Linked DNA regions of Homo sapiens: regions 1, 3 and 4 are each linked to region 2. The links come from fine-mapping of genetic effects on gene expression. A gene starts in region 2. Each other region holds a variant in brackets. All regions are shown on one strand. Distances are from middle to middle.

Region 1 (8,104 bases), 24 kb before region 2:
CTCTTACCTAGGGCCCTTATTCTGGGCTTTTGGAGCAGTAATTGAAGTGTGTTGTTGTTCTGGGCTCTGGCTAGTTAGCCTTACGGCTTCTGAGCTAAAGTGGATTTTGCTGTGCACCCCAAAACAATCCCATTGGGTCTGGTCTAGCTGGAAACAGCAAAGTTGCCGCCAAACACACTCTTGTGAAATAAACCATGGGGTGGGGGGGGCGGGGCGGAAATAAAGAATGCTTTTTCTTGACATTGCAGTTGGCTCTAGCTTATTCATGATTATCTTTTTTTAACATTTTTAAACAGTAACAGAAGATAGATAAGGAAAGAACAATGCCTGCTCCAAAGCTCAAGGTGCACTGCAGTCTTGGGACTTTGGGTTATCTGGCTAATGCTCTGCTAGTGCCCAGGTCAGTGCTGACACTGCAGATGGTCTCTGCCTGGTCCTTCTAGCCAGCCCCTCACATCTGGAGGCCATTTGCTCAGCTGGATTTAATCCCAAGGGGAAATGGAAATTGCACTCATCCTCTGGCTCTCTGGTGGCAGCTACTGCTTAGCTCCTATTTAGGATTATCTAGAGAACCCTGAGATATCCAGGGGAGTGGGATGAAACAGCTTATTTGAAGCACTATTTTTACATATTCAAAGGAATCAATGTATCATTTACCCACTAAGTGTGCTTTTTTTTTTTTTTTCATTTCTTTGCTTCCTTACCCTGCAAGGATTATTTCCCCTTCCTCCATACTCCCTGGCAGTGGGTCCTGCTCAAAAGCACGTCCCTTCTCATTTTGCCTTAATCCAGGGCTCAGGCAAATAGGATGTGACCAAACCTCACTTGGGCAGTAATTAAAGTGATGTACACTTTAAGCCAAAAAGGTTGGGACTAAGCAGCATGATGAGAGTGGTTGATGAGAGACACCAGGGCTGTCTCTTCCCTAAATATACATACCTTTGTTTCCATAGTTAACACTTAACAGGCCAGGCATGGTGACTCACACCTGTAATCCCAGCACTTTGGGAGGATGAGGCAGGCAGATCACCTGAGGACAGGAGTTCGAGACCAGCCTGGCCAACACATAGTGAAACCCCATCTCTACTAAAAAAAAAATTCAAAAATCAGCCAGGCATGGTGGCACATGCCTGTAGTCCCAGCTACATGGGAAGCTGAGGCAGGAGAATAGCTTGAATCCAGGAGGTGGAGCTTGCAGTGAGCCGAGATCGTGCCACTGCACTCCAGCCTGGGCCTGACAGAGCAAGACTCCATCTCTAAAAAACAAAATAAAACAAAAACAAAGTGATTTCTCTTGTCACACTCAGATGGCCTAGGACACATGGGCATGTGAGGTCCCACACCCTTTTAACAGCCCATCTGGAGCTAAGGAACAAGGAGGGGCTGGCCTATTTTCCTCTGCACAGGTTCATACTTTTGTACACTCACCTTCAATACTGGGCTGGAAAGAACAGTCCCCATCTCCAAATGGTGCTAGAAATCAGGGAACCAAGTACTGCAGATAAATTTTCCAAATGTAACAACCTCTCCATGGCCCCTGCCTCCCCCAACACTTCCTGATACAGCTAATAATTAAGAACACAATCAAAGGCTAAGGGATAAATTATTTCTTTGGATTTATATTTTTCCATAAAATGCAAATGCTGATTCATCAGTGAGTCAGTATATGAAAAAGGGCCTCTTAAATGTCTTATAAACACTAATTATTCTTCCCCAGTCTTCATTTCCTTAAAGTCACATCGCTCACAAGTAGGCTCATCTTCCACTTCTGCCATCTGAAGGCTGGTCCATGCCCAGCCTGAACCAGGGGAAATGTGCAGAACTCACCAAAATTTTTCCAACACCCTGACAACATTTCATTTCAAACTCTGATCCCTGCCCTGTGATTACAAAGAGGATGCTGCTGGTTGTCTCTCACAGTCCCTGCTGTGGGAAAAACTGATATCCAATGTTCTCTGAAACATACTGTCTTTCATCTAGACTCAGAAGCTAGACATAAAATTTAAAAAAGAAGAGTGTCCATGGCCATGTTATACCTGCCACCTGCTAGGGCCCAGTCATCAGTCATGGTTGCTGATGATGAGACTGCTGAAAAGACCTGAGCAGGATGGGAGAGAACAAAGGTAGTTCTTTTTATAGCATGAGGGGAATGGGAGACTTCAAAGCTTCCAGCAGCCTCATCACCCAGGCTTCACCCTAGAAGTCATTTTTGTCATCAGGCTAGCTGAGGCTTCTGGGCCTCTCCTTGTGCCTCTTCATATTCTTCTTCTGGTTTCAGCTGAGGGCCAGGGATCATCACCGTCTGAAAGAGTAGGACGCCAGGTTACCCACCAACCAAGCCCATGGCTGACCCAGAAGAGCTTCATCCCTTGCTCCCACCCACCCACCCACCCGGCCTTCCCTTCCTGGGTGGTGCATCACCCCCTCTCGCCACTAGGTGGAGCCCGACAGAGTGGCTTAGGAGACCACGAGTAGTGCCTCAGCTCTCTTAAACCATGCAAGCCACCTTACCTTAAGGATGGGCTGCTTAGGGGGTGCCCATGGGGGAACGATCTTGGTATGCATTCTCCAGCTTCCATAGGGGTTTGTCAACTGCTTTTCGAATACAACATACTCCAGGACATCCTTGGGTACATCTTCCTGTCCATACATCAACCGGCCAAACCGGTCATAGATGGCCAGAGTCTGCAAGGATAAAAGCAAATCTGGCCTCTTAGTTTTTTTGGTGTGTGAGTGTGAGTTGTTTGTTTTATTGCCATACAACCTTTTTTTTTTTTTTGAGACAGAGTCTCACTCTGTTGCCCTGGCTGGAGTGCAGTGGCATGATCTCAGCTCACTGCAACCTCTACCTCCTGGGTTCAAGCAATTCTCCTGCCTCAGCCTCCCAAGTAGCTGGGATTACAGGCACGTGCCACCACTCCTGGATGATTTTTTTTGTCTTTTTTAGTAGAGATGGGGTGTCACCATGTTGACCCAGCTGTCCAACTCCTGACCTCAGGTGATCCACCCGCTTCGGCCTCTCAAAGTGCTGGGATTACAGGCGTGAGCCACTGCACCCAGCCTGCCACACAACCATTTTTGAAACCACCATAAGAAAAATCTTTTTAAATTTTTTTTTTTTGGAGACGGAGTCTTGCTGTTGCCCAGGCTGGAGTGCAGTGGTACGGTATCGTCTCACTGCAACCTCCGCCTTCCAGGTTCAAGCGATTCTCCTGCCTCAGCCTCCTGAGTAGGTGGGACTACGGGCACACACCATGATGCCCGGCCAATTTTTCTATTTGTAGTGTACACAGTGTTTTGCCATGTTGGCCAGGCTGGTCTTGAACTCCTGACCTTGTGATCTGCCTGCCGTGGCCTCCCAAAGTGCTGGGATTACAGGCATGAGTTACTGTGCCCAGCCAGAAAAAATCTTAATGGGTAGAAAAAAAGTTATCTCGGAATTCTGAATCTAGGACTATCTGATCAACTACTGACACTTTATTCTTACAAGTTCTTTGACAGGGGGCAGAGAGACGGGGAAGTCAAGACCAAGAAGGAGTGGGGCACAATGGCTCATGCCTATAGTCCCAGCACTTTGGGAGGCTGAGGTGGGTGGATCACTTGAGCTCAGGAGTCTGAGACCAGCTTGGGCAAAATGACAAGACTGGTCTCTACAAAAAATACTAAAATTAGCCAGGCATGGTTGCGTGCCCCTGTAGTCCCAGCTACTTGGAGGCTGAGGTGGGAGGATTGCTTGAGCCCAGGAGGTTGAGGCTGCAGTGAGCCACAATCACATCACTGCACTCCAGCCTGGGTGA[C/G]AGAATGAGACCCTGTCTTGGGGGAAAAAAAAAAATCAGGAAGAGTGGGAGAGAATATCCTCACACATCTTAGTAGAGCCAACATGTAACAGTGGGAAGGGGACAGCGGCACAGCAAGGAAGACAGATCACAGTGTACCTTTTATTACTGTCTACAGTCCTGGGCAACCATACCCAGCACTCCAGAGGGAGGTGCCCAAGCTCAGAGTGAAAAAAAGCTGGGAGGAAGGCAGACGAGTGCCTCTACCTGCCGGGTGTGCATGCGTACGGTGATCTGGCCGTACACGTTGCCCTGGTTCATCATACTTGAACAGCGAACTTGAACAACATGAGAGGGCTCTAAAGATTCCACAAAGCTCCAGCGGACGGTCTTATATTTGATGTCCCAAGTCATGTCCTAAGGGCAAAGGAGAACAAGTTCAACTGCATTTTTCCCTCCCTTTAAGGAAGCTGGTGCTGCCACACTGCTCTCACTTCCTGCAAGACTACAGCCAACAGGCAGCACGTTTCCCACCACATGCTCTCTTGTGCCTATTTTCTCTTGCACCTTCTCAAGTTTTGATTAAGCTATTGGTCAAGCTTACCTGACAACTCTCTCTTCATCTATATCACAACTTCAGACCCACCTTCCTCTTTGAGGACCCTTCTTTAAATCAACAAAAACCACATTCCAAACTGCCAGCATGCCCAATACACCAACATCCCTCCCATACACTTTCATAATGTGGCAATTATTGCATGTACTTGTGTTGACTGCATATATATTTTTTTTCCCCACTCACATATTAACAATGAAAAGTGGGAATTTTACAGGGCTATAAGGGCTAAACTGCTAGGACTGGGGAAGACTGATAGAAACTGAAGTTCTACTGATAGAAACCCAAGTTCTTTTTTTATTTATTTTTATTTTTGAGACGGCAATCTTGCTCTGTTGCCCAGGCTAGAGCACAGTGGCGCGGTCTCGGCTCACTGCAAGCTCCGCCTCCCAGGTTCACGCCATTCTCTTGCCTCAGCTTCCCGAGTAGCTGGGACTACTGGCGCCCGCCACCACGCCCGGCTAATTTTTCTGTATTTTCAGTAGAGACGGGGTTTCACCATGTTAGCCAGGATGGTCTTGATCTCCTGACCTCGTGATCCGCCCGCCTCGGCCTCCCAAAGCGCTGGGGTTACAGGCGTGAGCCACCGCACCCGGCCCCAAGTTCTTATTCTTGGATCTCTAACTGAACCACAAAGTTCTTATCCTTGGGGATCCCTCCAAGTGCTTCACACTCCTGTTACCACTCAATATAAGCCTCATGAACTCTTGTTAAATCCCTCATGATAGTGCAGGCGTGTGGAGATGTGGCCTAGTATGGCCCATATCCAAGCCTCAGGACCTATGCTCCTGCAGTGTCATTACTGCTTGTTGAGGGACTTCTTTCATTTGCCAGGGCCCTTACCAGAGTCTGTGTCAAGACATTGTCATTCAGCTACAAGCAATGAACCTTCAGCCTGTGCCTTAAACTTCCTACACTCTCAAAACTGATCCTTCTTAAGAAAAACCAGGCAGGGCGCAGTGGGGTTCATGCCTGTAATCCCAGCACTTTGGGAGGCCGAGGCGGGCGGATCACCTGAGGTCGGGAGTTGGAGACCAGCCTGACCAACGGGAGAAACCCCGTCTCTACTAAAAATACAAAATTAGGCCAGGTGCGGTAGCTCACACCTGTAATCCCAGCACTTTGGGAAGCCGAGGTGGCCGGATCACGAGGTCAGAAGATCGAGACCATCCTGGCTAACACAGTGAAACCCCGTCTCTACTAAAAATACAAAAAATTAGCCGGGTGTGCTGGCGGGTGCCTGTAGTCCCAGCTACTCAAGAGGCTGAGGCAGGAGAATGGCGTGAACCCGGGAGGCGGAGCTTGCAGTGAGCCGAGATAGCGCCACTGCACTCCATCCTGGGCGACAGAGCGAGACTCCATCTCAAAATAAATAAATAAATAAATAAATAAATAAATAAATAAATAAATAAATAAATAAAAAATTAGCTGGGCATGGTGGCGCATGCCTGTAATCCCAGCTACTTGGGAGGATGAGGCAGGAGAATCGCTTGAACCTGGGAGGTGGAGGTTGCGGTGAGCCAAGATCGCACCATTGCACTCCAGCCTGGGCAACAAGAGTGAAACTCTGTCTCAAAAAAAAAAAAAAAAAGAAAAGAAAAGAAAAGAAAAGAAAAACCAGAGACGCCATCTAGAATCTGCCCACTCAGTCACCCCACAGTTCTAAGGAGGATGAGAACTTACTGGAAAACAGTGTTCAGTTACCAAGGTATGAAGCCGGTCATGGTCTGAGCTAGAAAAGAAAGCAATAAATATCATTGACTATTGCTCTTATAATACCCTGTATGAAGACTGAAAATGGTCCTGAAAATGGAAAACAATTCATTTTTACAAATGTTTTCGGCACATCTAGTATAAGCCAGGTATAAAATATGCTAAATTCTAGGGGCACAAACACGAACAATAATGTGATTTACCAGAAAACCCTAAGATCTAGTAGCAGAATAAAATTATATTACAAATAAAAAATAAATTTAAAAAAAATTATGTTTAAATCTAAGGAGTAGGAGGCAATTTCTCTAAAATTACCATATATCCTTAAGATGGGTACCCTCACTGGGACATAGGACCTGATTTTTGCTCTAAGCTGGTATGAGCAACAAAGTTCAACACAAGTAACAATCAAAAGCTTGTTTTATCTCCTCTTGCCTCTGAGCCAGCATCAGTACCATCTGGCTTGGCCTTATATCTTTTTTTTTTTTTTTTTTTTTTTGAGACAGAGTCTCGCTCTGTCGCCAGGCTGGAGTGCAGTGGCGCGATCTCGGCTCACTGCAACCTCCACCTCCCAGGTTCAAGCGGTTCTCCTGCCTCAGCCTCCTGAGTAGCTGGGACTACAAGTGCACGTCATGACGCCCACCTAATTTTTGTATTTTTAGTAGAGATGGGGTTTCACCATGTTTTTAGCCTTATATCTTACACGCTCATCTTTGAACCTAGTCAAAGATAATCATGTCTTTCCTGGTCTATTTTCTCTCCTTTATCTTGTTGCTGCCAGAGTGGCCGAGTCATGCTGACTCTATATAGTAATGGTTAAAAAAACACAAAACAGCCGGGCATGGTGGCTCATGCCTGTAATCCCAGCATTTTGGGAGGCCGAGGCGGGTGGATCATGAGGTCAGGAGATCGAGACCGTCATGGCTAACAAGGTGAAACCCCATCTCTACTAAAAATACAAAAAAAATTAGCCGAGAGTAGTAGCAGGCGCCTGTAGTCCCAGCTACTCAGGAGGCTAAGGCAGGAGAATGGCATGAACCCGGGAGGCGGAGGTTGCGGTGAGCTGAGATCACGCCACTGCACTCTAGCCTGAGTGACAGAGCGAGATTCCGTCTCAAAAAAAAACAAAACAAAACAAAAAAAACACAAAACAGACAACAAACCCTAGCTCCTATAGATACAAGATTTTAGGAGGGTTCCTAGCTGATGAGTCTCAAACCTAAGGCCATAGATTAGCTTCTTTCAGATACACACGACTTTTCCCCAGTTTACTATGAGCAGTTTAACTCTTTGTCCCCTTTGAAAAATCTTGCTCTCTAAGCCCAGAATGGGTAAGGGATTAGTTCTAACATGTCTATCTGCTTCCCTTTCATCTCTATTCCTAATAGGAAAGATTCCAAGTCATTTCCTCTACTGTAGGAACAGACTGAGCTGTGGTGACAACTACCATGATGACCATCACTGGCACCTCTGAGTGAACTCTTCCTCCCCACTATCCTGGCATAGAAGTCTTCAGTGGAAATAAACTCCATTTTCCATGAGTTCACTTACTATTTTGCAATAATGTAATACTACTTCTACTATAAACATTTAGAAATGGTGGATTTATGGGCCGGGTGCGGTGGCTCATGCCTGTAATCCCAGCACTTTGGGAGGCCAAGGTGGGCAGATCACGAGGTCAGGAGATCAAGACCATCCTGGCCAACATGGTGAAACCCTGTCCCTACTAAAAATACAAAAATTAGCCAGGTACAGTGGCACACACCTGGAGTCTCAGCTATTCAGGAGGCTGAGGCAGGAGAATCGCTTGAACCTGGGAGGTGGAGGTTGCAGTGAGCCAAGATCGCGCCACTGCACTCCAGCCTGGCAACAGAGCAAGACTCCGTCTCAAAAAAAAAGGAAATGTTGGATAAAATGTAAAACAGACAAATACACTTTTGCTTTTTTTTTTTTTTTTTTTTTTTTTTTGGATTGCACCACTGCCCTCCAGCCTGGGCTA
Region 2 (8,104 bases):
ATACAGTCAGAGCTAGACTGGCTGGGTGTGACGGGTCACACCTGTAATCCCAGAATTTTGGGAGGCTGAGGTGGGAGGACTGCTTGAGCCCAGGAGTTCGAGACCAGCCTGGGCAACATAGTGATAACCCGTCTCTACAAAAATTTCTTTTAAAAATTAGCCAGGTCGGCTGGGCGCAGTGGCTCACGCCTGTAATCCCAGCACTTCAGGAGGCTGAGGTGGGTGGATCACGAGGTCAAGAGATCGAGACCATCTTGGCCAACATGGTGAAACCCCGTCTTTACTAAAAATACAAAAATTAGCTGGGCGTGGTGGCATGCGTCTGTAGTCCAGCTACTCGGGAGGCTGAGGCAGGAGAATCTCTTGAACCCGGGAGGCAGAGGTTGCAGTGAGTTAAGAGTGAAACTCCGTCTCAAAATAAATAAATAAATAAATAAATAAAGGGCTGGGCGTGGTGGCTCTCACCTGTAATCCCAGCACTTTGGGAGGCCAAGGCGGGCCTCCTGAGGTCAGGAGTTCAAGACCAGCCTGACCAACAGACCAACATGGAGAAACCACATCTCTACTAAAAATACAAAATTAGCCGGGCATGGTGGCACATGCCTGTAATCCCAGCTACTCAGGAGGCTGAGGCAGGAGGATCATTTGAATCCAGGAGGCGGAGGTTGCGGTGAGCCAAGATCGTGCCATTGCATTCTAGTCTGGGCAACAAGAGCGAAACTCCATCTCAAAAAAAAAAAAATTAAATATATGATTAAAAAAGGATCCTATACACTCCAAAGTCAACTCCCTAACTGATATGACAAAAATTACCAATAAAGGCAGGGATGCTGAGAATCAGGAAGCCCACATTATTCTGCATTAAATACAGACTCTAGTACAAAGGAGAAAATACCATCATGTTATTAAGAGAATGACACCCAACCCAATTAACCCAAAAAGGTCTCTTTGGGATAAAGTAGCAACAAAAAATTGTTATTCTAATACCAATACCCAATTGTCTCAGACACCTACGACACTTGTGATGCCATAGTCTTCTTCATTCGTTCAGTTCTCTCTATCAGTCCCTCCTTTGAAAGAGATGATATGCGTGCATCACCCTCAGGAGGAACATAGGCATCAAATATACCAGCTGTAATAAAGGAAGAAAAAAATTAAGAAAGTGTTGAAAGATTGAGAAAAACTCATAAAATTGAAGTAATGTAAAATTGGGAAGGATTGTGGATATGAAGTAGACTAATGAAACAGACTTCCATGTAGAGAGAACTATGTTACACTAGAAAAAAACAAAACAAGGCCGGGCACAGTGGCTCACACCTGTAATCCCAGTACTTTGGGAGGCCGAGGCGGGCGGATCACAAAGTCAGGAATTCAAGACCAGCCTGGCCAAGATGGTGAAACCCCATCTCTACTAAAAATACAAAAATTAGCCGGGCATGGTGGCAGGTGCCTGTAATCCCAGCTACTTGGAAGGCTGAGGTAGGAGAATCGCTTGAACCCAGGGGGGCAGAGGTTGCAGTGAGCCCAGATTGTGCCACTGGGCGACAGAACGAGACTCTGTCTCAAAAAACAAAACAAAACAAAACAAAAAAAGCCAGAAAGATTTAAGTCTTCTCTCAGAGCCTCAGTTTCTACTTCCACAAAATGGAGAAATTTCACTCTTGCCTTCTAGGGACAGTGTGAAAGTAAGTTCAAAGAACAACTTCATGATATATAGTGTATATAAGGTTAATCATTATTGAGGTTGAACTGACTTCGTGCTTAATTAAATATTATCAATCATAGTCCAAGTCATCCCAAGTTCCAGAAGATCTCTGACAGAAGGATCCCAGGTCAGGGTCCCAGAAATACCTCACCTGTACAGGCCAGATGTATGGAACGGTCCGATTTTTCTGGAGGAATAACCAATCCTGCTTTCCGGGCATGTTGCATAAACTCCTTTTCTGTTTTAAATTTAGGTTGATAAATAGGAGGTGTGAAACGTTTTTTAGTTCTTACTGGAACTATAGCTGCGGACTGAGTCACCAGAACTGGCTGGAAGGTAAAGGAAAGGTTAGGAACCTAGAAAAAAGATCTACTATCTTTTACAAACTCTAAGCAAAGCACTATAGAGAGGGAATATCCAAAGAATGCTTCAGGAACAATTATAAAACAATATCACAGGGAAAAAATGCATTAGGACCTTAATACTTATGGGTGTCTCTAAATAGAAGACAGTTAGCAACCTTTATTAACATCACATTTACTAAAGGCTTTCCTTTAGAACTTCCCACAGTACAGGACTATGCTAACTCCTACGGATACTGAGTTGATCAAAGCAAGTTTCAAAAACTGATGGTGATGGGGAAACACCAACTCAATACTGAAATGGGCAGAATACTATTCTTTATTATTTTTTGAGGCAGATCGCTAGCCTAGAGTGCGATGGCACGATCACGGTTCACTGCAGCCTTGACCTCCTGGGCTCTAGCTATCCTCCCACCGCAGCCTCCCAAGTAGCTGGGACTAAGGAGTGCGCCATCGCATCTGGCTAATTTTAAAATTTTTTTGTAAAGACCAGGTCTTATATGTTGCCCAGGCTCATTTCGAACTCCTGGGCTCAAGCCATCCTTCTGCCTCGGACTTTCAAAGTGCTGGGATTACAAGTGTGAACCACCGCGCCGGGCCCTGAATGCTATGCTTAAAGCATAAGCAAAGTCCTCTTGTAGGCATCTGCTCCATATGTACTCGTGATATTTTGCTCATCCTATCGGGAGTCTCGCTGTAAACTTTATTCTGTCGTTTTAGCACCCAACTGACCAATAAACCCTCGAAAGATCAGGAGATCTTTTCTCTCTGATCATGAGGTTTGCTCAGACGGGGCAGTGACAATATGGGACGCCCTCATTTTCGGCTACTCTTCAACGTAGTTCACTTATAAGAATCGAAGATTAGGGAGTCCACCTTCCAACCCATTACTTGTCTCTCCTTTAATATCTCCTCGCCAGACAGACCCAAACCAATCCGGAAAAACTTAATATCCGTTAATTCACTCGCTCTCATGGCCCTGTCTAGGCTATCCCCATTCGACCACTGAGCTCCGCAGCTAGGTCCTGTCCACCTAAGCCTCTTCCCCGGCCTAGGTATGACTCGTATTGTCCCAGCTCACCAAGGACAATTGCACAGAGAGTATTTCCCTCGACTCTGTCCTCTCCTGTAGCCCCTAGGGTCCTATCGGCCCCGTCCCTACCCACCTGCCGAGACCACCAGCCCAAAAACCTCGATAAACAAGAGAACCCTTGAGGTATGGGGGCTGCCATCTTGTTCCCGCAAAGGCCGCCGGGAAGGGAGCTGAGAGTGAAGAGCGTCGGGTAGGAGAAAAGCCGCATAGGGTGGAGCTAGCACAGGAGTGGAATTTTCCAGGGAGCGCGCCCTCCGCCGAAATGTGAGCAGCGAGGACGCGCACGTGCTCGCGGGAGTGGGGGAGGGTGGAGTAAGGAGGGCGGAGTACGGCCGCGCGTGCGCAGGGAGACAACGTTGGGCGTAGGGTGGAACGAACTGTTGTCCCCCGCCAGCGAGAGAGCGCTTGAACGCGAGCTGCGCCTGCGCCCGAGGCTTTCTGAAGGCCGGGGAATGGGCATTGCTGTATGCTTGGCACATTGCCGTTTATTCCATTAGTTAAAAAAGGAAAAGGAGGCCGGGCGCGGTGGCTCACGCCTGTAATCCCAGCACTTTGGGAGGCCGAGACCGGTGGATCACCTGAAGTCAGGAGTTCGAGACCAGCCTGGCCAAAATGACGAAACCCCGTCTCTACTAAAAATACAAAAATTAGCCGGGCGTGGTGGCACACGCCTGTAGTCCCAGCTGCTTGTAAGGCTGAGGCAGGAGAATCGCTTGAACCCAGGAGGCAGAGGTTGCAGTGAGCCGAGATCGCGCCACTGACTCCAGCCAGAGCTAGACTCCGTCTAAAAAAAAAAAAAAAAAATTAGTCGTAGGGTGGAACGCACGGTTGTCATGCGCCAGCAAGAGAGCGCCGGGCTTGGTGGCAGGCGGCTGTAGTCTGAGCTACTTGGGAGGCTAAGGCAGGAGAATCCCTCGAACACAGGAGGCGGAGGCTGCAGTGATCCGAGATCCCGCCACTGCACTCCAGCGTCGGTGACAGAGAAAGACTTTGTCTCAAAAAAAAACAAAAAAAGAGATTGACTACTGTCTTCTACTATGTTTACTAAAGCAGAAGACACGTGAATTGACAAAAACATTTGTGATTTGTCATTTCGGAAAGGAGTCACAGAGCAATTACGTAATTTACTTAAGGTTAGATAGATGATAACTGGCAGAACCGAGATTTGAATCTAAGCAGTCTAATTCCAGAACCCATGCAGGTAACTGCTACGTGCTGCTTCATGTTAAGTTGTTAAAGGATTCGTGATGTTGGGATCACCCTGGTAAATTCAGTAGTGTAAACGTTGCTGAAAGGCAGACACTTTCCACACTTAGCCGTTGGTTATTATTCTGCCAATTACAGCTTACAGAGTTCTCATCTACAATATTTTGCAATAAGTTAGGAGCTACAGGCTGTACATACAAGAAATTTCAGGCTGAAGTAGAATTGCTACAAAGGTCGAAGCAAAGTGCTGGGGACTATCAGAAGAACTGAAAGATTACTTTTGGGTTTGGAGATCACGTGTTGTTGTTGTTTTTGGAGACGGAGTCTCACTCTGTCACCCAGGCTGGAGTGCGGTGGCACAATCTCGGCTCACTGCAACCTCTGCCTCCCAGGTTCAAGCGATTCTCCTGCCTCAGCCGCCAGAGTAACTGGGATTACAGGTGCACGCTGCCATGCCCGGCTAATTTTTTCTAGTTTAGTAGAGACGAGGTTTCACCGTGTTGCCCAGGCTGGTCTCCAACTCCTGAGCTCCGGCAATCCGCCCACCTCGGCCTCCCAAAGTGCAAGGATTACAGGCGTTTTTTAAAGCTTGACTTCGCAGCTATATCGTACATTCTTATGTGGTAAGTATTTCCCTACAAGTTCCAGCCACAGTATTGAACCTATAGCACGACACATTAATAGTGACATGAAATTAGTGCTGTATGTATGTGTTGAAGAGTATGTGGGGTCGTGTGGGGTGGCTCACACTTGTAATCCCAGCACTTTGAGAGGCGGAAGTGGGTTAGATCCCTTGAGTCCAGGAGTTCAAGACCAGCCTGCCCAATATGGCAAAACCCTATCTCTACAAAAAAATTAAAAAATTAGGCCGGGTGCGGTGGCTCACACCTGTAATCCCTGCACTTTGGGAGGCCGAGGCAGGCGAATCACGAGGTCAGGAGATTGAGACCATCCTGGCTAACATGGTGAAACCCCGTCTCTACTAAAAATACAAAAAAAATTAGCCGGGCATGGTGGCAGACGCCTGTAGTCCCAGCTACTCCAGAGGCTGAGACAGGAGAATGGAGTGAACCTGGGAGGCGGAGCTTGCAGTGAGCCGAGATTGTGCCACTGAACTCCAGCCTGAGCGACAGAGCAAGACTCCGTCTCAAAAAAAAAAAAAAAAAAAAATAGCTGGGCATGGTGGCCCCAGCTACTGGGGAGGCTGAGGTGGGAGGATGGCTTAAGTCCAGGAGGCAGAGGTTGCAGTAAGCCAAGATCCCACCACTGCACTCCAGCCTGGGCAACAGAGCTATTCAGTGCCTATAGAAGCATAGGGAAACAAGAAAAAAGAAAAAAATAGAATATATGTTATTAAGCATTTAAATAAGCTATATCTGATTATTTAACAGACTCCTGTCCACCTACTCTAATCCCTAGAAAATAAAACATGATTTTTTTTTTCTCTTGAGACAGTTTTCACTCGTCAGCCAGGATGGAATGCGATAGCGCAATCTTGGCTCGCTGCAACCTCCATCTCTCGGGTTCAAGTGATTCTCCTGCCTCAGCCTCCCAAGTAACTGGGATTACAGGTGCCCACCACCACGCCCAGCTAATTTTTTGTATTTTTAGTAGAGATGGGGTTTCACCATGTTGGCCGGGATGGTCTCAAACTCCTGACCTCAGGTGATCCGCCCACCTCGGCCTCTCAAATTGCTGGGATTACAGGGGTGAGCCACCGTGCCCGGCCAAAACATGAATTATTTTTACTGGTATTCCCAACCAAAGTGAGGAAAGTTTACTCCATGGATGAGAGGTGTTTTTTTTGTTTGTTTTTTTGTTTTTTTTCAGATGCAGTTTCACTCTGTCATCCAGGCTGGAGTGCAATAGCTCGATCTCAGTTCACTGCGACCTCTGCCCCCTGGGTTCAAGCGATTCTCCTGCCTCAGTCCCCCGAGTAGCTGGGATTACAGGTGCCTGCCACTATGCCTGGCTAATTTTTGTATTTTTAGTAGAGATAGGGTTTCACCACATCGCCAGGCTGATCTCTAATTCCTGACCTCAGGTGATCCATCTGCCTCGGCCTCCCAGAGTTCTGGGATTACAGGCGTGAGCCACCGCGCCTGGCCAAGATTATTGATTAATGCAGAACATTAATATAATTTATCTTAGATTACTTCCTCCACCATTGAGTTTTATGTTAGCCTCACACAGTAGCCAACACATCCCAGATCATCTCTGCCCACCCTCTGATCAGTTTCTCAGTTAATACAAACTTGTTCCATATCAGCCTGGATGAAATAATGATAGGGGAGTCAATATCATTTAATTGCTTAGAGATGAGCTATAAGTTAGTTTTGTTGTTGTTTGATGAGCTACTGTTTTGGAAAATTCATATCTTCCTACCTCATCAGCTTCATGGAAAATTGGGAGCTGGCCAGGCACAGTGGCTCACGCGTGTAATCCCAGCACTTCGGGAGGCTGAGGCAGGCAGATCACCTGAGGTCAGGAGCTCAAGACCAGCCTGACCAACATGGAGAAACCCCGTCTCTACTAAAAATACAAAAAATTAGCTGGGCGTGGTAGCGGGCGCCTGTAATCCCAGCTCTTCGGAAGGCTGAGGCAGGAGAATTGCTTGAACCCGGGAGGTGGAGGTTGCGGTGAGCCGAGATCATGCCATTGCACTCTAGCCTGGGCAACAAGAGCAAAACTCAATCCCCCCCAAAAAAAAAAAAAAAAAAAAAAAAGAAGAAAATTGGGAGCTGTCTGTTAGAGAAGTAACACCAAAAGGATATTTCTTTTCTTTCTTTTTTTTTTTGAGATGAAGTTTCACTTTGTTGCCCAGGCTGGCGTACAGTGGGACGATCTCGGCTCACTGCAACGTCGGCCTCCAGGTTCAAGTGATTCTCCTACCTCAGCCTCCGAAGTAGCTGGGATTACAGGTGCCCGCCACCAAGCCTGGCTAATTTTTTCTATTTTTAGTAAAGATGGGGTTTCACCGTGTTGGTCAGGCTGGTGTCGAACTCCTGACCTCAGGTGATCCACCTGCCTCATCTTCCTAAAGTGCTGGGATTACAGGCATGAGCCACCGTGCCCAGCCAAAAAGGGTATTTCTTAATCCTACAATCTTAGTAATTCACATTTCAGAAAAAGCAAGATAAAAAGATCTTGTCACGATGATGGGAGCAAGAGAAGAGAACTCATTGTGCAAGTAGAGGAAGGAATCGATTGTTAGGGGCTCAGTCTTGGCAAAGAACACTCTTGCACATAGTAGACACTCCAATATTTATTTATACAATAAGCAGATGTGAAGAATTCCAGTTGAAATATGATGGGGCAGGCCGGGCGCGGTGGCTCACGCCTGTAATCCCAGCACTTTGGGAGGCCGAGGCGGGTGAATCACGAGGTCAGGAGATCGAGACCATCCTGGCTAACACGGAAACCCCATCTCTACTGAAAATACAAAAAATTAGTCGGGCGCGGTGGCAGGCGCCTGTAGTCCCAGCTACTCAGGAGGCTGAGGCAGGAGAATGGCATGAACCCAGGAGGCGGAGCTTGAAGTGAGCAGAGATCTGGCCACTGCACTCCAGCCTGGGCGAAAAAGCGACACTCCATCTCAAAAAAAAAAAAAAAGAAAAGAAAAGAAAAAGAAATATAATGAGGCAGAAGGAAAAGTTGATTTCCTGTTTTTCCCAGTGAAGTGGGTTACTGGAATCCCTTGTTGTCGTATTGAAATTTCTAAATGGAGCCCGAAGAGGG
Region 3 (8,104 bases), 390 kb before region 2:
AGATGGATCTCGAACTCCTGGGCTCAAGCGATCCTTTCACCTTGGCCTCTCAAGTAGCTGGGACCACATTTGCTCACCAGCTGGCCCAAGACCAGACTGGGCAACATGGTGAGACCCCGACTCTACAAAAACTTTTTTTTTTTGAGACAGAGTTTCGCCCTTGTTGCCCAGGCTGGAGTGCAATGGCACGATCTTGGCTCCTGGCAACTCCGCCTCCCAGGTTCAAGAGATTCTCCTGCCTCAGCCTCCTGAGTAGCTGGGATTACAGGGACCTGCCACCACACCTGGCTAATTTTGTATTTTTAGTAGAGATGGGGTTTCTCCATGTTGGTCAGGCTGGTCTCGAACTCCCAACTTCAGGTGATCCGCCCGCCTCAGCCTCCCAGAGTGTTGGGATTACAGGTGTGAGCCACCGGGCCTGGCCCCCCAAAAAATTTTAAAAATTAGCTGGGTGTGGTGGCACATACCTGTAGTCCCAGCTACTTGGGAGGCTGAGGTGGGAGGATCAGTTGAGCCCAGGAAGTTGAGGCTACAGTGAGCTGTGACTGTGCCACTGCACTCCAGCCTGGGTGACAGAGTGAGACCCTGTCTCAAAAAGAAAAGAAAAAAGGTTTTGAATACGGGCGTAACAGTCAGATTTGTGGCTTTGGAAAGATGACTGTGGGGTATGATGAGTCTTGCTGAGGCATTGACTTGGAGGGCTGGAGGTGTCGGGATGAGGACTGGGTTTCTGGCTGTGGAAGTGAATAGATGGGGGAGCCACACCTCAGGATAGGTTTCCTGGGAAGAGGGGGTGGAGTGGGTGCTGATGGTTTGGGATGGCTGAGTTTGAGGGGCTTTTGAAATGTCCGAGGTGGACTGAGTGGGCAGTGTGGTGTCTGGGCCAGACCTGAGAGGAAAGGGCCAGGCTGAACCCCGGGGCTCCAATGCTGACTGCAAAGTGAGCAGGGAAGAGTGTCTGGAGAGAGAAGAGAGTTCTGGACAAAGCCTTGAGGAGCCCCGACATTTTGGGCTGAAAAGGGGAGAGTGAGCCTGCACTGAAAAGCAAGAGGAAGCAGCCCCAGAGGCAGGACAGCAAGGGAGCTTGGTGTCCAGAAAGAAGGGGACTGGAAATGTCTCGGAGGAGGAAGTGGCCAGCCAAGCGGGCTGCCCGGAGAGGTCAGGGAGGCTGACAAGTGCCTGCCAGTTTCGATGAGATGGAGGCCACCGAGACTTCAGCAAGAGCTATTCCGGTGGCGGGCGAGGGTGGAAGCAGATGGAAGCGGGTTGGGGAGCAAGTGGGAAGTGAGAAAAGGAAGGCTACGTGCGTAGACAGCTCTCGGGGGAGCTTGGCTGTGAAGGGAAGAAAGGGATAGGGCTGTAGCCTCTGGGGTCAAGGAAGATTTAGCTTTTTAATGGGAGAGACCTCCTGATGGCGAGAGTGATTGGCTGTGCAAGGGAGATGAGATGACTCTAGGAAGGTGGATGAGAAAGGCCAAGGCCAGGGCACCCTGCTACTTAACAGAGGGGTGGTACGCTGATGGCTGGAAGTTGGCAGCACATGGGGCAGGCACTTGCTTGCCTTGGTTCCTTGCTCATATTCCTCTGCAGGTGGAATTCTTCTCTCTTCTCTCCTGCCTCCTTTGTTTTTTTTTCTTTTTCTTTTTGTTGAGATGGAGTCTCTCATTCTGTCGCCCAGGCTGGACTGCAGTGGTGCAATCTCGGCTCACGGCAACTCCCACCTCCCAGGTTCAAAGTGATTCTCCTGCCTCAGCCTCCTGCATAGCTGGGACTACAGGCATGCACCACCACACATGGCTAATTTTTGTATTTTTAGTAAAGATGGTGTTTCACCATGTTGACAGGCTGGTCTCAGGTGATCTGAGGTGACCTCAGGTGATCCATCTGCCTTGGCCTCCCAAAGTGCTGGGATTACAGGCATGAGCCACCATGCCCAGCCCTGCCTCCTTTGTATACTCCTGTTCAGCCTGTAGACATAGGAGGAAGATTACGTTCTCTGAAAAGACCTCCTTCCTCTTCCTCTAGGGTCATCCTCCTCTAAGATTCCAGGACCATGATCATCCCTCTATTGCTACTTCTTAGATCAGCTTGTAATGTCCATCTCCCCCACCAGACTGCGTCTCCAGCATCTCTGAGTCCCCAGGGCCTGGCCTGGGGCTTGCTACATGGTGGGTGCTCAGTAACTGTGAGGTAAATAAATGAATGAATTAACCATGGTCATATGGAGGAAGTACTGCAGGAGGAGGCAAGTCTGGAATAGTTCCTAAGTGAATGCGGAGAGGGATGGGACAAGGAAAGAAAGGAGGAAAGGGAAAAGGCAGCCTAAGCTACTGCCAAAGGCACTTACATTGATCATGAACTTCTATGCACCAAGCATTAATACGTGAGTTTCTCATTTTTTATTTTTTATTTTTTTCCCGAGACGGAGTCTTGCTCTGTCACCCATGCTGGAGTGCAATGGCGTGATCACGGCTCACTGTAACCTCCGCCTCCTGGGTTCAAGCAATTCTCCTGCCTCAGCCTCCCGAGTAGCTGGGATTACAGGTGCCCGCCACCGAGCCCGGCTAATTTTTGTATTTTTAGTAGAGATGGGTTTCACCATGTTGGCCAGGCTGGTCTTGAACTCCTGACCTCAAATGATCTGCTCACCTTGGCTTCCCAAAGTGCTGAGATTACAGGAGTGATCCACGGCGCCCGGCCATGTTTTTTCTTACCTATGGATAATAATTATTTTTTTTTTTTGAGACAGGGTCTTGCTCTGTCACCCAGGCTAGAGTGCAGTGGTGTGACCAAAGCTCACTGCATCCTCAAACTTTTGGGATTAAGGGATCTTCCTGTCCCAGCCTCCCAAGTAGCTGGGGGCACAGGCATGCACCACCATGCCCAGCTAATTTTTACACTTTTTGCAGAGATGGGGTCTTGCTATGTTGCTGCTCAGGCTGGTCTTGAACTCTTGTTGGACTCAAGTGATCCTCTTTCCTTTGTCTCTCAAAGTGCTGGGATTACAGGCATGAGCCACCTCGCCTAGGCTAGGTTTCTTCTTTAATCCTCACAATATCTTCAGAAGGAATATTATTTGCCTGTGCATTAGCTGGCTTCCCGAATCTACTAGAATACAAACTCCTTGAGGTGGGGGTTGTCTGTCTTGCTGCTGTGTCCCCAGTGCTAGAATAGCACCTGGCACATAGAGTTGCCAGATAAAACACTGTCAAATCTGAATTATAGATAAACAATAAGTAAGTTTTTTAGTATAAATAAATATGTTCTGTATATTTTGTGCTAATTTTTTTTTTTTTTTTTTTTTTGAGACGGAGTTTTGCTCTATTTCCCAGGCTGGAGTGCAGTGGCACTATCTCAGCTCTCTGCAACTTCCGCCTCGAGGGTTTAAGTGATTCTCTTGTCTCAGCCTCCCTTACAAGAGCCTCCTCTTTTGTAAGCTGGGATTACAGGCACTCGCCACCACACCCGGCTAATTTTTGTATTTTTAGTAGAGATGGGGTTTCATCATGTAGGCCAGGCTGGACTCAAACTCCTGGCCTCAAGTGATCACCCGCCTTCGCCTTCCAAAGTGCTGAGATTACAGGTGTGAGCCAGTGCACCCAGCTCTGTGCTAAATTTGACAATACTATACATAGCAGGTCCTTAATAAATATTGT[T/G]CCATAAATATTGTTTGATTAAATCTCACGGTGGGAATGCAGCCAGTAAATTCCAGACTATGGGAAGTCTAGAAGACAATCGTAGTATCTCCAATGACTAAATTGCAAAGAGGAAAAAAAAAAAGAGAGACAGAGAGAGATAAAGGGGGAATTTATAGATAAAAAGAGAGACATATTAACCACTTGAAATCCTTCTTTGGCTCCTAATTCAAATAAACTAAAAATTGTAAAGAAAAAATATTATAAGATAATTAGAAATTTGAACACTGACTGGCTATTTGATGAAGTTAAAGTGTGATTGTTAATTCTTTTTTTTTTTTTTTTTGACATGGAGTCCCACTCTGTCACCCAGGCTGGAGTGCAGTGGTGTGACCTCAGCTCATTGCAACCTGTGCCTCCCAGGTTCAAGCAATTCTTCCGTCTCAGTCTCCTGAGTTTCTGGGACTACAGGTGCATGCCACCATGCCCGGCTGATTATTTTTTGTATTTTTAATAGAGACAGGGTTTCACCATATTGATCAGGCTAGTCTCGAACTCCTGACCTTGGGTGATCCACCCGCCTTGGCCTCCCAAAGTGCTGGGATTACAGGCATAAGCCACTGTGCCCGGCCAATTGTTAATTTTTTTTAGGTTTGATAATAATGTTGGGGTTATGTTTACTTTTAAAGGGTCCTTATAGAAATATGTATTGAAATATTTAGGAATGAAATTATGTGATGTCTTGGATTTGCCTAAAAATAACATGGGGTTTGTTCTAGGTTGGGCACAGTGGCTCGCACCTGTAATCCCAACAGTTTGGGAGGCCAAGGCAGGAGGATTGTTTGAGCCCAGGAGTTTGAGACCAGCCTGGGCAACATAGTGAAACCCTATATCTACAAAAAAATACAAAAATTAGCCGTGCGTGATGGCACACGTTTGTAGTCTCAGCTACTCAGGTGGCTAAGGTATGAAAATCACTTGAACCCCAGAGGTTGCAGTGAGCCGAGGTCGCATCACTGCACTCCAGTCTGGGCAACAGAGCAAGACCTGTCTCTAAAAAACAAACAAAGCAAAACAAAATAATATGGGGTTTGGGGTTTGTTCTATATCTTATATTTTTCTTTCTTTCTTTTTTTTTTTTTAGATGGAGTCTTGTTCTGTCACCCAGGCTGGAGTGCAGTGGCACAATCTCAGCTCATTACAATCTCTGCCTACTGGGTTCAAGTTATTCTCCCACCTCAGCCTCCCAAGTAGCTGGAATTACAGGCACGAGCCACCACATCCAGCTAATTTTTTTGTATTTTTAGTAGACATGGGGTTTCACCGTGTTGGCCAGGCTGGTCTTGAACTCCTGACCTCAAGTGATCCACCTGCTTCGGCCTCCCAAAGTGCTGGGATTGATTACAGGCATGAGCCACCGTGCCTGGCCATTGTTCTATAATATATCTTTTTTTTTTTTTTTAATTGAGACGGAGTCTCGCTCTGTTGCCCAGGCTGGAGTGCAGTGGCGCAATCGCGGCTCACTGCAAGCTCCGCCTCTCGGGTTCACGCCATTCTCCTGCCTCAGCCTCTCCGAGCAGCTGGGACTACAGGTGCCCACCACCACACCCGGCTAATTTTTTGTATTTTTAGTAGAGACGGGATTTCACCGTGGCCTCGATCTCCTGACCTCATGATCCACCCGCCTCGGCCTCCCAAAGTGCTGGGATTACAAGCGTGAGCCACCGCGCCCGGCTATAATACATCTTAATTGTGGTGGTAACATGGGCATATTCCTTTGGCAAAACCATTTGAACTGTACACTTAAAATGTGCATTTTATTACATAAATCATACCTAAATAAAATTGTGTTGTTATTGTTGTTTTTTGAGACAGGGTCTCGCTCTGTCACCTGGGCTGGAGTGCAGTGGTGATTGCAGGTCCCTGCAGCCTGAACCTCCCAGGCTGAAGGGATCCTTCCACCTCAGTCACCTGAGTAGCTGGGACTAGCTAATTTACATGTTGTTGTTTTTGTTTGTTTTGGTAGAGATGGGGTTTCGCCATGGTGCCCAGGCTAGTCTCAAACTCCTGGCTCTAACAATCTGCCAGCCTCGGCCTCCCAAAATGCTGGCATTACAGGTGTGAGCCATCATACTGGCCAATTTGATTTTTTTTTTTTTTAAGTGAGGAAGTGGGTGGGTAAGAATGAAACAAAACTGACCATGAGTTGGTGAGTGTCGAAGCTGGATATTGGGTACTCAGAGGTTAATTATGTTTATTTACTTTTGTGTAGGTTTGAAATTTTCCATCATATAATACCTTTTTAATTGCATGAGGAAAGATGCTAGTCTTGTTTTACAAATAAGGAAACTAAAGCTTCCTGAGGTTAAGTAATTGCCCCAAAGTCACAAAGCTAGTAAAATGATGGGTCTGGAATGTGAACTGACCCATCTGAGCCCAGAACTTAAGCTGTTAACCCTGGGTGCAAATTCCCAGAGGAGGTAGAGGAACATGTGGGTTTATGCTAGGGGGTGATGCAGCCCTGCTGACTTAGGGAATTCTGGGACCAAGAAAGGTTAAATGATGGTGGCTGGGTGTGGCAGGGTGGAGAAATGGCTTCCCTCTTGGATTCATTGTTGTGGGGTAGCCTTGTGGTTACCAGAGCTAACTTAGGACTCAACTACCTGGGTTTGGGTTCTGGCTCTACCACTTGCTAGCAGTGTAACTTGGGCAAGTCACTTATCTCCCTCAATGTCCTCATTTATACCATGGATTATTTATTTATTTATTTTTTGAGACAGAGTCTTGTTCTGTCACTCAGGCTGGAGTACAGTCCTGCAATCTTGGCTCACCACAACCTCCGCCTCCTGGGTTCAAGCGATTCTTGTCTCAGCCTCCCGAGAATCTGGGCAGCTGGGATTACAGGCGTGCACCACCACACCTGGCTTATTTATTTATTTATTTATTTATTTATTTACAGACAGAGTCTCGCTCTGTCACCAGACTGGGGTGATGTGGCGCAATCTCGGCTTACTGCAACCTCCACCTCCTGGGTTCAAGCGATTCTCCTACCTCAGCCTCCCTAGTAGCTGGGATTGCAGGCACCCGCCACCACGCACAGCTAATTTTTGTATTTTTAGTAGAGATGGGGTTTCACCATGTTGGCCAAATGGTCTTGATCTTTTGACCTTGTGATCTGCTCGCCTTGGCCTTCCAAAGTGCTGAGATTACAGGTGTTAGCCACTGCGCCCGGCCTAGTTTTAAATTTTTTTAGTAGAGACGGGGTTTCGCCATGATGGCCAGGCTAGTCTCGAACTCCTGACCTCAGGTGATCCGCCCACCTCAGCCTCCCAAAGTGCTGGGATTACAGGCGTGAGCCACCGTGCCCAGCCTATATCATGGATATTAATAGGAATGTAAAATGGAATAGCCCGTTTGGAAAACAGCCTTGCAGTTTTTAGTTTAGTTTTGTTTTGTTTTGAGACAGGGTCTCACTCTGCCGCCCAGGCACAGAATGGCATGAATGTGGCTCACTGCAGCCTTGACCTGCTGGACTCAAGTAATTCCTCACCCTCAGCCTTCTGAGTAGCTGAGACTACAGGCACATGCCACCACTCCCGGCTAATTTTTGTATTTTGTAGAGATGGAGTTTCACCATGTTGCCCAGGCTGGTCTCAAACTCCTGGCCTCAAGCCATCAGCCTGCCTTGGCCTCCCAAAGTGCTGGGAATACAGGTGTGAGCTACCATGCCCGACCTTGGCAGTTTTTAAAAGAATTAAACACAGCTGGGCATGGTAGCTCATGCCTGTAATCCCAGCCCTTTGTGAGGCTGAGGCAGGAGAATCCCTTGAGCCGAGGAGTTTGAGACCAGCCTGGGGAATATAGCGAGACCCTGTCTTACAAAAAAAATTTAAAAAGAAATTCGCTGGGCATGGTGGCTCAGGCTTGTGGTCCCAGCCACACTGGAGGCTGAGGCAGAGGATCTCGTGAGCCCAGGAGGTCAAGGCTGCAGTGAGCCCTGACTGTGCCACTGCACTCCAGCCTGAATGAGACTGTGAGACCCTGTCTCAAAAAAAAAAGAAAAAGAAAAAAAAGGTTAAACATAAATGTAGCATATGACCCAGCAATTCCACCCTTAAATGTCTACTTAGGAGAAATAAAAACATATATTCACAAAAGACGTGTATAGCAAATGTTCATAACAGCATTATAGATAATAGCCAAAAAGTGAAAAACACCCAAATGTGATTGGATAAACAAAATGTGGCATATCCCTACAACAGACTACTACTCAGCAATAAAAAGGAACAGGCCGGGCGCAGTGGCTCATCCCTGTAATCCCAGCACTTTGGGAGGCTGAGGCAGGCGGATCACCTGAGGTCGGGAGTTCAAGACCAGCCTGACCAACACGGAGAAACCCCGTCTCTACTAAAAATACAAAATTTGCCAGGCGTGGTGGCGGGTGCCTGTAATCCCAGGTACTCGGGAGG
Region 4 (8,104 bases), 450 kb after region 2:
GGCCAAGAAGAAAAATTATCTCTGTTTGCCCATTGATTTTCTATGTAGAGAACCATAAAGATTCTACAAAAAATTGTTAGAGCAAATAAACCAATTCAGCAAAGCGCAAAAATCAGTTGCATTTATATACGATAGCAATAAACAGTCCAGAGAAAAGAAAATCATTGTAATAGCATCAAAAAGAATAAGGCACTTTACAATAAATTTATCCAAGAAGGTGAAAGACTCACACACTGAAAATGATAAAACCTTGCTGAAAGTAATTAAAGAAGACATAAATAAATGAAAGACATCCTATGTTTATGAAGGAAGACTTAATATTATTATGATGTGTCAAGACTATCCAAAGCAATCTACAGATTCAATGTAATCGTTCTGAATATTCCAATGGCATGTTTGATTTTCTTTCTGAAATAGAAAACTCGTTCTAAACCTCATAGGGAATTTCAAGGCACCCTCCCTGAATAATCAAAACAATTGTGAAAAAGAAGAAGAGTTGGAGAACTTGGCCGGGCGTAGTGGCTCACGCCTGTAATCCCAGCACTTTGGGAGGCCAAGGCAGGTGGATCACAAGGTCAGGAGATCGAGACCATCCTGGCTAACACAGTGAAACCTCGTTTCTACTAAAAATACAAAAAAATTTGCCAGGCGTGGTGGTGGGCACCTGTAGTCCCAGCTAGTCAGGAGGCTGAGGCAGGAGAATGGCGTGAACCCGGGAGGCAGAGCTTTCAGTGAGCTGAGATCATGCCACTGCACTCTACCTGGGCAACAGTGAGACTCCTGTCTCAAAAAAACAAAACAGGCTGGGTGCAGTGGCTCACACCTGTAATCCCAGCACTTTGGGAGGCCCAGGTGGGTGCATCTCTTGAGGTCAGGAGTTCGAGACCAGCCTGGCCAACATGGTGAAACTCCATCTCTATTACAAATACAAAATAGCTGGGCATGGTGGCGTGCACCTGTAATTCCAGCTACTCGGGAGGCTGAGGCAGGAGAGTCACTTGAACCCAGGAGGCAGAGGTTGTAGTGAGCCAAGATCACGCCGCTGCATTCCAGCCTGGGTGACAGAGTGAGACTCTGTTTCAAAAAAAAAAAAAAAGGAAAAGAAAAACCAAAAACTGTGATACTAGCATAAGGACAGATATCTAGATCAATGGGGTGAAATAGAGGGCCCAGAAACAAACCCTCACGTCAGTGGTCAGTTGAGTTTTGAAAAGGGTGCCAAGATGTGCTGGGCACAGTGGCTCACACCAGTAATCCTAATACTTTGGGAGGCTGAGGCAGGAGGATCACTTGTGGTCAGGAGTTTGAGACCACCCTGGCCAATATGGCAAAACCTTGTCTTTACCAAAAATACAAAAATTAGCCAGGCGTGGCGGCGCATGCCTGTAATCCTAGATACTCGAGAAGCTGAGGCACGAGAATCACTTGAAGCTGGAAGGTTCAAGTTGCAGTGAGCCGAGATTATTCCACTGCACTCCAGCCTGGGTGACAGAGTGAGACTCTTGAGAAAGAAAGAGAGAGAGTTGAGGTTGCAGTGAGCCAAGATCACTCCACTGTACTTCAGCCCGGGTGACAAAGTGAGACGAGAGAGAGAGAGAGAGAGATAGAAAGACAGAGAAAGAGAGAAGGAAAGAGAGAAGGAAGGAAGGGAGGGAGGGAGGAAATAGACAGAGAAAAGAAAAGAAAGAAAGGAAAGAGAGATGTGCCAAGACCATTTAATGGGGGGAAAAACAATCTTTTCAATAAACAGTGCTGAGAAAACTGAGTATATGTAAAAGAATGAAGTAGGACTCTTACCATACACCATATATAAATTTAACTCAAAATGGATCAAAAACATAGGAGCTAAAATCATGAAACTCTTAGAAGAAAACATAGGGGAAACCCTTGAAAACATGGGATTCAGCAATGTTTTCTTGGATATAACACCCAAAGCACAGGCAACACAAGAAAATAGATAAATTGATCTTCATCAGTTGAAGAACTTTCATCAAAAAACACTATGAAGAGAGTGACAAGAGGCCAGGTGTGGTGGCTCATGCCTGTAAATCCCAGCATTTTGGAATGCCAAGGTGGGAAGATCAGTTGTTCCCAGGAGTTTTGAGACCAGCCTGGGCAACACAGGGAGACCCCCATCTCTATAAATAAAAAAAAATAAAAAATAAAAAATTAGCTGGGCATGGTGGCATGTGCCTGTAGTCCCAGCTACTTGGGAGGCTGAGGTGGGAGGACCACTTGAGCCCAAGAGGTCGAGGCTGCAGTGAGCCATGATTACACCACCGCACTCCAACATGGGTGACAGAGTGAGACCCTATCTCAAAAGAAAAGACCAAAAAAAGTGTGAAAAGACAACTGACAGAATGAGAGAAGATATTTGCAAATTGTATGTATAATGAGGGATTAATATCTAGAACATATTAAAAAAACTCCTACAACTCAACAATTACAAAAACAAGGAAGCCAATTCAAAACTGGGCAAAAGGCTTAGACATTTCCCCAAAGAAGACAAGCACACATGAAAAGAAGCTCCACATCACTGATCACACCAGGGCGGTGGCTCATGGTGGAGGGAGAATGGTTTGAATCCAGGAATTTGAGACCAGCTTGGGCAACATAGTGAGATCCCATCTTTACAAAAAGTAAAATAAAACTCAGCCAGGCATGGTGGTGCACACTTGTGGTCCCAGCTACTCTGGGTGGGGCGCCGAGGCAGGAGGATCGCCTGAATCCAAGGAATTCAAGCTTGAAATAAGCTATGATTGCATCACTGCACTCCAGCCTGGGCAACAGAGCAAGACCTTGTCTCAAAGAAAAGAAAAAGAACTCAGTCTAAACTCAATTTTCATCCTTCTGTGTTCCCTACACATTTGCAAGATACCACACCATTATTCATCATTAAACAGCAATGGCTGCATAACTTTCTAGCCTTCAGATGGCCATAGTGAAATTTATTCACCCTTTCTTGGTCATGTAGGTCATTTCTCTCTTTTTTTTTTTTTAAGTGTCTTGCTATTGGCTGTTTATTAGTCTTTGCTTTCTGAATCATTTCTGCTTCGGGTCCTGTGGCCCTGCTTGGCTCCTGCCCCTTCTTTCCATTGGCTGCCACCTCTCCCTTCTTCCTTTCCCACTGGGTCAGGGACTTCCTGGGAAAGACACGTCTGGCTTTGTGTGCCTTGCCCATAGCCATGGTTTTACCATGTGATGTCACCACATCACTGACACTTGACTTAAGGAGATGAGTCATAACTTGTGCTGTCATTTCTCTCCTGAGAAGCTAAATTAAGAGATACAGGAAATGCTCCTGAGCAGCCCTGGAGAGCCAAACTGAAAAGCCACTCACACTTGGGGTTGAGGCCACCGATTTTATTTTATTTTATTTTATTATTTTATTTTATTTATTTTATTTTATTTTATTTTATTTTATTTTATTTTAGTATTGTAGTGTAGTGTAGTGTAGTGTAGTGTAGTGTAGTGTATTGTAGTGTAATTTTTGAGACAGGATCTCACTCCGTTGCCCAGGCTGGAGTACAGTGGTGCGCTATCGGCTCACTGCAGCCTCTGTCCCCCAGACTCAAGCGGTCCTCCTACCTCAGCCTCCTGAGTAGCTGGTACCAAAGGTGGATGCCACCATACCCGGCTAGTTTTTTGTATTTTTCGTAGAGACGCGGTTTTGCCGTATTGCCCAGGCTGATCGTGAACTCCTGGGCTCAACTGATCCACCTGCTTCAGTCTCCCAAAGTGCTGGAATCAAAGATGTCAGCTATTGTGACCGGAGGCTACCATTTTGCATCACCCATGTACTGATGGATCAGCCTAGAAAGTGTGTTGTGACAACTCAAGCGTCAGTTACAGATTAATGGGTAAAGAAATGGTGGTAGAGACATACAAGACAATAACATTCAACCCCAAAAAAAGAAGGGAATCTTGCCTTTTGCAGCTACATGGATGGACCTGGAGGACATTATGCCAAGTGCAATAAGCCAGGCACAGAAGGACAAATACTGCATGGTTCCTTTTTTTCTTTTTTTGAGACGGAGTCTCGCTCTGTCGCCCAGGCTGGAGTGCAGTGGCGCGATCTTGGCTCACTGCAAGCTCCGCCTCCCCGGTTCACGCCATTCTCCTGCCTCAGCCTCTTGAGTAGCTGGGACTTCAGGTGCCCGCCACCACGTCCGGCTAATTTTTTGTATTTTTAGTAGAGATGGGGTTTCATCGTGTTAGCCAAGATGGTCTTGATCTCCTGACCTCGTGATCTGCCCACCTCGGCCTCCCAATCACAAAGTGCTAGGATTACAGGCGTGAGCCACCGCGCCCGGCCGCATGGTTCCATTTTTATGAGGTATCTACAACAGTGAAACTCACAGAAGCAGTGTATACAATAGTGGTTAGCAGGGGCTGGAGGGTGGGCAAAACGGGGAGTTTTTCCATGGGTGTAAAGTTTCAGTTATGCTAGAGGAATACGTTCTAGAGATCTGCTGTACAACACAGGGCCTATGAATAACAATGCTGTACATTTCAAAATCTGTTAAGTGGGTAGGTCTCTTGTTGTGTTGTTACCACACACGGGAAAACCCAAAACAAAACCAAAACCAAAGAGACACAAGGAAACTTGGGGAGGTGTTGGCTATGTCTATTCCCTCAGGGTAGTGACAGTATCATGGGTGTTTGCAAATGTCCAGACTTA[C/A]CAAATTGTACACATTAACCACGTGCAGTTCTGTGCATATCAGTTATTCCTCAATAAGGCTGTTTCTTTTTTCTGTTTTTGAGACGGCGTCTCATTCTATCTCCCAGGCTGGAGTGCAGTGGTGCGATCATAGCTCGTTGCAGCCTTGAATTCCCAGGCTCAAGTGATCCTCCCGCCTCAGCCTTCAGAGTAGCTGGGACCACAGGCATGTGCTACCAGGCTTTGCTAATTTCTATTTTTTTAATTTTTTGTAGAGATGCAACCTCGATATGTTGCCCAGGCTCTTCTTGAACTCCTGGGCTCAAATTATTCTCCTGTCTTGGCCTCTTAAAGTGCTGGGATTATAGGCGTGAGCCACTGCGCCTGGCCTCCTCTCTCCCTTTTTCTGTTCAGGATAAGCCAGTGGTCCCTGGGGTCCTTTCTCATCTGTACCCCAGGAGTCTTCTGGAGCTGAACCGAGGCTCTTGCACACGCACATCTGGGCTTGGACCCAACATCATCAGAACTGACGCTCTAGACACATGGCTTCGACTCCTTTCATAAAACGTCCACATCAGCAGCTTTTACCCATTTGTTCAACAAATACTCATTAGCAGGCTCCTGTTCCCTCAGCCTTGGTGTAGGCCCTGGGGTTACTGGGGGTAATGGTGGGTATGGCCCCTACTCTCATGAAGGTTAGTGGTGAGAGAAAGGAAGAAATAACTACACAAGATGCTTTTGGTGATGAACGCCCTGAAGAACAGAAAGCAGGGAGATGTGGAAGTGCCTGGGGTTGGCAGGGCAGGCCTCACAGGGGCACTTGAGTTGAGACCTGGACGATAGATCACGTCAGAGTACCAAGCGGGGCTGTTTGTCACAAACAACAGTATCCCACTCTGGTTAACATAAGCAGAAAAGGAATGCATGGGAAGGGGTGTCAGGTGGTTCAGAGAATGAGCTGGAGGCCTGGAGAGTTGGGCCAGCACACAGGGGCTTCCTAAGGGAGTCGGCAGCCAGAACCTTCAGCGGAGTCATGCTGCAGAGGGATCTGGTGGGGACCGAGCTGCCGCCACCCTGGATACTGGATGCCATTTGGGCCTTGAAGGCCAGACCCTCTGGCAGGCCCCCAACAGAGGGACCTTCAACCTGGGCCTGCTGACCTGCCCCAGATGACAGGTTTGTCTTCTACTGGGCGTCTTTTAGAACTCAAGACGGCTTCCCATCTCACGCATAGTGAAAGCAACAGTCTTTATAAAGTTCTACATGTAGCTGGTGCAGTGGTTCACGCCTGTAATCCCAGCACTCAGCACTTTAGGAGGCTGTGGTGGGATTGCACGAGCCCAGGAGTTCAAGGCCAGCCTGGGTAACATAGCAAAACCCCATCTCTGCGAAATAAAAATTAAAAGAATAGCCAGGCATGATGACACATGCCTAGTCTCATCTACTCAGGAGGCTAAAGCAGGAGGTCAAGGCCGCAGTGAGCCATGATCACACCACTGCACTCCAGCCTGGGAGATACAATGAGAACCTGTCTCAAAAAAAAAAAAAAGTTTCTACATGACTTGGGTCCGATCCTCTGCCCCCATCCATTGTTCTTCCCTTGCCCCATCCTGCTCTGGCCACATTGGCCACTTTGCTTTTCCTCAGTCATGCCAAGCATGGCTCTGCCTTCAGAACCTTTTCCCCAGGTGTCCCCATTGCTCCCTTCCGCCCCTCCAAGTCTTAGCTCAACACTTACCTTGAGGCCCGCCCGACCTGCCTATTAAGCATAACCTTGCCTGCCCACCCAGTTCCTTTATGCTCATAGTTTTTGCTACTGGTCACCTTCTAACATACCATTATTGTGTCTTCATAGATGATCTCCCTGATGACTGTCTCTCAGGGGCCCAGGCAGGGACTGACGTTAGAGTCAATACTCCACAGCTGTTTGTTGAATGAGTAGGTAACAGCATGGCTGGCTGGTCCTGGTGCAGAAAGTCTTGGGAGGCCTCAGTTTGCGTCGTGCTTCTGTCATCAGCCAGCTGTGTGATTCTGCACAAGTATTTTAACCTCTCTGGGCCTCAGTTTCCCCATCTGTAACTTGGGGGCCTACCTCAAATGGTTCCTGGTGAAGAGTAACAAGACCATACCCTAAGTTCCAGTTGCCTTTTCCTCTGCCTTTCCACCTTCCCCTCCAGCCCCTCCAAGTCTCTTTTGTTAAGACAGGGTCTCACTCTGTCACCCAGGCTGGAATGCAGTGATCTCGGTTCACTGCAGCCTCTATCTCCCAGGCTCAAGTGAAACCCACCACAGCCTCCCAAAGTGCTGAGTGCTGGGATTACAGGTGTGAAACACTGCACCAGCTACATGTAGAACTTGATAAAGACTGGCTTTCACCGTGTATGAGATGGGGAGCCATCTTCAGTTCTAATGCAGCTGGGACTACAGGTGCGTGCCACCACACCCGGCTAATTGGTTTTGTGTTTTTTTTTGTTTGTTTTCTGTTTTTTTTGTACAGACGGGTTTCTCCATGTTGGCCAGGCTGGGCTCGAACTCCTGGTTTCAAGTGAACCTCCCAACTTGGCTTCCCAAAGTGCTGAGATTACAGGCGTGAGCCACCATCCCCGCCCCCTCAAAATCTGTTAGGACGACAGTCTCGCCAAGGCAATGCAGTCGCAATATGCCGTTTCCATTGCAATCACAATATGACATTTCCATTTACTTTGGATTATACGTCATTATGAATATTAACAAGACTTAAAAAGGACACCTTCGGGTATGTCAGATGAAAGTACAAAAATTGCGTTGTGGGGCTGCAGTTTGAGGACAGTGTCTGCAGCCGTCACGTGGTAGCAAAACGGTGTTAAGCATTGCAGGAGAGTCTGCATCTACGACAGCCAGAGTCCATACGTCGGGAGGTTTATTTGGTTTGAGAGGGAACAACAGGCAGGATGGGCACCACCCGGGGCTGGACAGTCAGGCGGGCTAGGGTGCGGTTCCTCGCACTCGCCACTAGAGGTGAGGCGTTTACCGCTTCAGGGCTGGAAGATGGGCCCTCGGGGACTGGCTACTGCTGGCCCGGGGCGGAAACCTGGGCGGGGGTTGGATGCGACGCCTCAGGCGGCCCCCCTGGTTACTGACACCCGACTTTGGCATGACTTTATTTGTTTTTCCCCCCATCAGATTTCCTGTCTTTGTGGGCTGATGGACTAGAGGAAAGATGCCTGTTGACGGTCAAAGGCAGAGCCTCTTCGGCAGCTTCTTAAAGCGCCTTCTTTAACAGAGAAACAATCTGCATGGGGTCTAGAACGGTTCTGAAATCCTGCTGAAGGTTTCGAAACTTCCTGGGGGGGGTCTCCTGCCAGAGCGCCTACGCTGCCTCTGGGCTGGCTGGCCAGTGAGCCCCGTCTCACAGCCTGACAGTCCCCACATCAGCCCGGACCGTCTTTCGGGACCAGCCCCATT

The links. PIP is the estimated chance that this variant, and not a neighbour inherited with it, causes the effect.
Region 1: its variant is fine-mapped to the expression of MRPL45 in left ventricle (GTEx, PIP 0.97).
Region 3: its variant is fine-mapped to the expression of MRPL45 in transverse colon (GTEx, PIP 0.95).
Region 4: its variant is fine-mapped to the expression of MRPL45 in unexposed skin (GTEx, PIP above 0.99).

What each region holds. Positions count from the first base shown.
Region 1 is chr17:38,316,707-38,324,810 of GRCh38, reverse strand. It overlaps MRPL45 (mitochondrial ribosomal protein L45), which reads right to left. Exons shown (of 8, transcript NM_032351.6): 5 at 6,076-6,124; 6 at 4,044-4,193; 7 at 2,512-2,685; 8 at 1,600-2,302. The coding sequence ends at 2,216. GPR179 (G protein-coupled receptor 179) reads left to right here. Exons shown (of 11, transcript NM_001004334.4): 11 at 1-240. Among named protein-coding and RNA genes, the nearest start is that of GPR179, 23 kb to the left of the region's middle. RefSeq lists an enhancer at 3,501-4,438. The variant C/G (reference allele first, on the strand shown) is at 3,798.
Region 2 is chr17:38,292,379-38,300,482 of GRCh38, reverse strand. MRPL45 (mitochondrial ribosomal protein L45) reads right to left here and starts at 3,315. Exons shown (of 8, transcript NM_032351.6): 1 at 3,234-3,315; 2 at 1,857-2,034; 3 at 1,015-1,132. The coding sequence starts at 3,299. It overlaps LOC105371760 (a long non-coding RNA gene), which reads left to right and starts at 4,878. Exons shown (of 3, transcript XR_934732.2): 1 at 4,878-4,989. RefSeq lists enhancers at 2,880-3,430, 3,431-3,979.
Region 3 is chr17:38,678,798-38,686,901 of GRCh38, reverse strand. No RefSeq gene overlaps it. Among named protein-coding and RNA genes, the nearest start is that of EPOP, 7.9 kb to the right of the region's middle. The variant T/G (reference allele first, on the strand shown) is at 3,657.
Region 4 is chr17:37,844,433-37,852,536 of GRCh38, reverse strand. It overlaps the pseudogene YWHAEP7. Among named protein-coding and RNA genes, the nearest start is that of TBC1D3K, 76 kb to the left of the region's middle. RefSeq lists an enhancer at 7,845-8,104. The variant C/A (reference allele first, on the strand shown) is at 4,682.